Linked DNA regions of Homo sapiens. The protein of the gene in region 2 purifies or fractionates together with the protein of the main gene of each other region. This does not show direct contact. Each region holds a gene or a part of one and is shown on either strand. Other genes may lie near its edges.

Evidence for each region. The genes of interacting proteins can lie anywhere in the genome.
Region 1: the proteins of PTAFR (region 2) and EIF2B3 purify together in Homo sapiens (affinity purification with mass spectrometry; one large-scale study listed by BioGRID and IntAct). This does not show direct contact.

What each region holds. Positions count from the first base shown.
Region 1 is NC_000001.11:44,875,096-44,878,595, forward strand, and holds part of EIF2B3 (translation initiation factor eIF2B subunit gamma), read right to left. Parts: intron 601-3,500; coding exon 523-600; intron 1-522. UniProt on the Homo sapiens protein: Acts as a component of the translation initiation factor 2B (eIF2B) complex, which catalyzes the exchange of GDP for GTP on the eukaryotic initiation factor 2 (eIF2) complex gamma subunit.
Region 2 is NC_000001.11:28,149,679-28,152,690, reverse strand, and holds part of PTAFR (platelet-activating factor receptor), read left to right. Parts: intron 1-1,631; 5' UTR 1,632-1,669; coding exon 1,670-2,698; 3' UTR 2,699-3,012. UniProt on the Homo sapiens protein: Receptor for platelet activating factor, a chemotactic phospholipid mediator that possesses potent inflammatory, smooth-muscle contractile and hypotensive activity.

The sequences.
Region 1 (3,500 bases), about 17 Mb from region 2:
TGTGCTCTCTTAAAGAGTGTGCTCAAATCAGAGTTAGAAGGGGGACAGATTGTGCCACTGCACTCCAGCCTGGGCAACAGAGTGAGACTCTGTCTCAAAAAAAAAGAAAAAGAAAATTGGGACTGACTCCTGAAGAAAACTTGGCTCAGGAATCTGTAGGACCCATACCAGATAAAACCTCAGGTGAGCCTCTACCTGGATTGGTTACAGATCCAAGGGAGTCCCAAGCCAGAGAGCTTATGAGAATCATAGGTAGTCCCACATTTACCCATGACTAGAGTCTTTCAGGCTGAGATTGAGAGCTCCTGTGTCTGAGTCCCAACACTATAATGGACCCTTCCTTACAAGGTCATTACTTGCCCAGGCAGTCTTGTTGAGTGAGATTTTATTCTCAGAACCCACTGTGATTTCCCTGGGGCTGATGAGGTTCAGGACTTAAAGGCCTCAATCCGGCTTCTCAAAAACAAGTCTCGATGCTCCCAAAGAACATCTCATGCCCGTCCTGGCCACACTAGCACTTACCAGGTGTTTGCTGACAATCTGGGCTGACGAATGGACTGGTGGTTCTTCTGGACAGAGAGCAGACAGCAATTTGGGCACCTTAAGGACAGAGATTTGGTCACTAAAGATCAGAAAACACCTTAGGTAGCTCTCCCTCTCCCTCTCCCTCTACCTCTCCCACTCCCCCTCCCCACGGTCTCCCTCTCCCTCTCTTTCCACGGTCTCCCTCTGATGCCGAGCCAAAGCTGGACTGTACTGCTGCCATCTCGGCTCACTGCAACCTCCCTGCCTGATTCTCCTGCCTCAGCCTGCCGACTGCCTGCAATTGCAGGCGCGCGCCGCCACGCCTGACTGGTTTTCGTATTTTTTTGGTGGAGACGGGTTTCGCTGTGTTGGCCGGGCTGGTCTCCAGCTCCTAACCGCGAGTGATCCGCCAGCCTCGGCCTCCCGAGGTGCCGGGATTGCAGACGGAGTCTGGTTCACTCAGTGCTCAATGGTGCCCAGGCTGGAGTGCAGTGGCGTGATCTCGGCTAGCTACAACCACCTCCCAGCCGCCTGCCTTGGCCTCCCAAAGAGCTGAGATTGCAGCCTCTGCCCGGCCGCCACACCGTCTGGGAAGTGAGGAGCGTCTCTGCCTGGCCGCCATCCCATCTAGGAGGTGAGGAGCACCTCTTCCCCGCTGCCATCCCATCTAGGAAGTGAGGAGCGTCTCTGCCCGGCCGCCCATAGTCTGGGATGTGGGGAGCGCCTCTGCCCCGCCGCCCCGTCTGGGATGTGAGGAGCGCCTCTGCCTGGCCGCGACCCTGTCTGGGAGGTGAGGAGCGTCTCTGCCCGGCCGCCCCGTCTGAGAAGTGAGGAGACCCTCTGCCTGGCAGCCGCCCCGTCTGAGAAGTGAGGAGCCCCTCCGTCCGGCAGCCACCCCGTCTGGGAAGTGAGGAGCGTCTCCGCCCGGCAGCCACCCCGTCCGGGAGGGAGGTGGGGGTCAGCCCCCCACCCGGCCAGCCGCCCCATCCGGGAGGTGAGGGGCGCTTCTGCCTGGCCGCCCCTACTGGGAAGTGAGGAGCCCCTCTGCCCGGCCACGACCCCCTCTGGGAGGTGTACCCAACAGCTCATTGAGAACGGGCCATGATGACAATGGCGGTTTTGTGGAATAGAAAGGCGGGAAAGGTGGGGAAAAGATTGAGAAATCGGATGGTTGCTGTGTCTGTGTAGAGAGAAGTAGACATGGGAGACTTTTCATTTTGTTCTGTACTAAGAAAAATTCTTCTGCCTTGGGATCCTGTTGATCTGCGACCTTACCCCCAACCCTGTGCTCTCTGAAACATGTGCTGTGTCCACTCAGGGTTAAATGGATTAAGGGCGGTGCAAGATGTGCTTTGTTAAACAGATGCTTGAAGGCAGCATGCTCGTTAAGAGTCATCACCACTCCCTGATCTTAAGTACCCAGGGACACAAACGCTGCGGAAGGCCACAGGGTCCTCTGCCTAGGAAAACCAGAGACCTTTGTTCACTTGTTTATCTGCTGACATTCCCTCCACTATTGTCCTATGACCCTGCCAAATCCCCCTCTGCGAGAAACACCCAAGAATGATCAATAAAAAAAAAAAAAAAAAAAAAAAAAAAAAACACCTTAGGTAGAACCCAGTGCTCAATCAGAGATACAGGGAGTTCTCAGCCATAGCTTCCTGTCTGAGTGAGGGGGAGCAGGAGGCTGCTGCATTCCCCCTAGGACCAAGATTATTTATGCAGCAGCTTCTAGATGGCCTTATTGTCAGTCTCTTAGCTTTGAATGCTCCTCCTTGAAAGTAATGCCATGTCCCTTGGCTGGGAGGCACTGAGACCAGTCTTTGAGATACCCACATACCACCTCTTGGGAAAGGAGGCCTGATCAGGTCAAGGAACACCCCGCATCCTGATCATAAGCATCCTGGGTTCCTGGTCACCTCCTGGACCACTGTGACCACGCATGAGGTGAGGATGAGATCCATTTTAGACAAATTCGAAATCAAGGACAGACCCTGAGAAGGCATCTATCCCCCAGCCAAAAGAAAACATGAAGGGGAAGTTCACACTATTCCCTCTCCAGTGTGAGAAACCTGGAAAGGTTAGAGGTATGGGGGGCTTTGGCTACCAGTCTATTAGGAAGGCACAGGTAGTGCGCCTGTCTATGATTCTCCAGCATAGACAGAATGCTGGTCAGAGCACTGTGCGTGGCAGCCACACTAGCTGACGGAGGCCTTGTCAGCACGGCTACACTGGAATGTGAAGGCTAATTCCAAGCCCCCAGCCCTAGGTTCTCTTCTTCCACACTCCACCCAAGGCCCTTCAGGCCCGTCTGCTGCATAGTCCCTGTTGGCACTTCAAAGGATACTTTTCCCAGCATGCTCACTCGAGAGCAGGGTCCCTCTTTCATGATGTGGACACAGCGGTGCACCTGTGATCTGGACAAGTCTTCCCACTCAGGTTATCCATGAACATCTTTCCAGACCAGCGTGAAAGATGCTAGTCATGGGTAAATGTGGGACTAGCTATGATTTCTCATAAGCTCTCTGGCTTGGGACTCCCTTGGATCTGTAACCAATACAGGTTGAGGCTCACCTGAGGTTTTATCTGGTGTGGGTCCTACAGATTCCTGAGCCAGGTTTTCTTCAGGAGTCAATCCCAATTTTCTTTTTCTTTTTTTTGAGACAGAGTCTCACTCTGTTGCCCAGGCTGGAGTGCAGTGGCACAATCTCAGCTTACTGCAACCTCCACCTATCAGGTTCAAGCAATTCTCCTGCCTCAGCCTCCTGAGAAGCTGGGATTACAGGTGCATGCCACCATGCTTGGCTAATTTTTGTATTTTTAGTAGAGACAGGGTTTCACCATGTTGGCCAGCCTGGTCTCGAACTCCTGACCTCAGGCGATCCACCCGTCTCAGCCTCCCAAAGTGCTGGGATTACAGGCGTGAGCCACTGTGCCCGGCCTCAATCCCAATTTTCAACAATTTCTTTTATATT
Region 2 (3,012 bases):
GCTCACTGCAACCTCCACCTCCCGGGTTCAAGTGATTCTCCTGCCTCAGCCTCCCAAGTAGCTGGGATTACAGGCGCCTGCCACCACGCCCAGCTAATTTTTGTATTTTTAGTAGAGACAGGGTTTCATAATGTTGGCCAGGCTGGTCTCGAACTCCTGACATCAGGAGATCCACCCACCTCAGCCCAGCCTCCTGAGTAGCTGGGACTACAGGCATACAACACCACACCCAGCTGATTTTTTGTGTTTTTGTACAGACAGGGGTTGCACCATGTTGGCCAGGCTGGTCTTGAACTCCTGACCTCAGGCGATCCGCCCACCTTGGCCTCCCAAAGTGCTGGGATTACAGGCGTAAGCCATCATGCCTGGGCAGACAGTTATATTTTAAAATGGAATAAAAGAAGAGAAACAGAACTGCCATTGATTGTATTGACTATCAGGTGCTATTTATTGTAAAAACACACCATTATTTTATGTAGGAAAAAACACTGCATGGTCAGGGGTGGTGGCTCTCGCCTGTAATCCCAGCACTTTGGGAGGCCAAGGCTGGCAGATTCCTTGAGCTCAGGAGTTCGAGAACAGCATGGGCAACATAGCAAAACCCCTTCCCTACAAAAAATACAAAAATTAGCTAGGTGTGGTGTCACACGCATACCTGTAGTCCCAGCTACTCAGGAGGCTGAGGTGGGAAGATTGCTTGAGCCCAAGAGGTTGAGGTTGCAGTGAGCTGTGATCGCACCACTGCACTCTAGCCTGGGTGACAGAGCAAGACCTTGTCTATAAAAAGCAAAAAACAAAGAAAAGAAGAGAAAAAAGGAAGAGAAATGTATTTCTCATAGTTCTGGAGGATGTTCATGATCAAGGCACCAGCAGGTTTAGTGTCTGATGCCTGGTTATCTGCTTCCAAGATGGCACCTTGAAAGCTGTGACCTCACATGGCAAAAGGGATGGAAAGACAAAAAGGGCAATATTAAGTGCTTTCTTCAACCTTGAGCCCCTTTTTAAAGAATTATTATTTTTTTTTTTTGTGTGAGACAGAGTCTCACTTTGTCACCCAGGCAGGAGTGCAGTGGCACAATCACAGCTCACTTCAGCCTTGACCTCCCTGGGCAACCCGGAGCCCTTTTCTAAGTGTGCTAATCCCATTCCACCCTCTGACTTAATCACCTTCCACAGGCCACACCTCTGCACTGGGGATTAAGATTCAACATGAGGCCGGGCACAGTGACTCATGCCTGTAATCCCAGCACTTTGGGAGGCCGAGGTGGGCAGATCACCTGAGGTTGGGAGTTTGAGACCAGCCTGAACAACATGGAGAAACCCCATCTCCACTAAAAATACAAACTAGCCAGGCATGGTGGTGCATGCCTGTAATCCCAGCTACTTGGGAGGCTGAGGCAGGAGAATCGCTTGAACCCGGGAGGCGGAGGTTGCGGTGAGCTGAGATCACGCCACTGCACTCCAGCCTGGGCAGCAAGAGTGAAACTCCATCTGAAAAAAAAAAAAAGATTCAACATGAACTTCTGAGGGGACATCATCATTCTAACCATGGCAAGGAGTCTTGGAACTGATGAAATGGAACAGTCCCTTCTTGTCCCTTTATTAACCAGAATTTTTGTGTGGTCTTCCAGGCACCACCAGGACCAGCTGATCATTCCAGCCCACAGCAATGGAGCCACATGACTCCTCCCACATGGACTCTGAGTTCCGATACACTCTCTTCCCGATTGTTTACAGCATCATCTTTGTGCTCGGGGTCATTGCTAATGGCTACGTGCTGTGGGTCTTTGCCCGCCTGTACCCTTGCAAGAAATTCAATGAGATAAAGATCTTCATGGTGAACCTCACCATGGCGGACATGCTCTTCTTGATCACCCTGCCACTTTGGATTGTCTACTACCAAAACCAGGGCAACTGGATACTCCCCAAATTCCTGTGCAACGTGGCTGGCTGCCTTTTCTTCATCAACACCTACTGCTCTGTGGCCTTCCTGGGCGTCATCACTTATAACCGCTTCCAGGCAGTAACTCGGCCCATCAAGACTGCTCAGGCCAACACCCGCAAGCGTGGCATCTCTTTGTCCTTGGTCATCTGGGTGGCCATTGTGGGAGCTGCATCCTACTTCCTCATCCTGGACTCCACCAACACAGTGCCCGACAGTGCTGGCTCAGGCAACGTCACTCGCTGCTTTGAGCATTACGAGAAGGGCAGCGTGCCAGTCCTCATCATCCACATCTTCATCGTGTTCAGCTTCTTCCTGGTCTTCCTCATCATCCTCTTCTGCAACCTGGTCATCATCCGTACCTTGCTCATGCAGCCGGTGCAGCAGCAGCGCAACGCTGAAGTCAAGCGCCGGGCGCTGTGGATGGTGTGCACGGTCTTGGCGGTGTTCATCATCTGCTTCGTGCCCCACCACGTGGTGCAGCTGCCCTGGACCCTTGCTGAGCTGGGCTTCCAGGACAGCAAATTCCACCAGGCCATTAATGATGCACATCAGGTCACCCTCTGCCTCCTTAGCACCAACTGTGTCTTAGACCCTGTTATCTACTGTTTCCTCACCAAGAAGTTCCGCAAGCACCTCACCGAAAAGTTCTACAGCATGCGCAGTAGCCGGAAATGCTCCCGGGCCACCACGGATACGGTCACTGAAGTGGTTGTGCCATTCAACCAGATCCCTGGCAATTCCCTCAAAAATTAGTCCCTGCTTCCAGGCCTGAAGTCTTCTCCTCCATGAACATCATGGACTGAGCTGGGGGAAGAAGGGATATCTACTGTGGTCTGGGCACCACCTCTGTGGGCACTGGTGGGCCATTAGATTTGGAGGCTACCTCACCTGGGCAGGGATGATGGCAGAGCCAGGCTGTTGGAAAATCCAGAACTCAAATGAGCCCCTTCATCCGCCTGTGGGCGCATACTACAGTAACTGTGACTGATGACTTTATCCTGAGTCCCTTAATCTTATGGGGCCGGAAGGAATGTCAGGGCCAGGTGCAGACCTTGGGGGAAGACTTT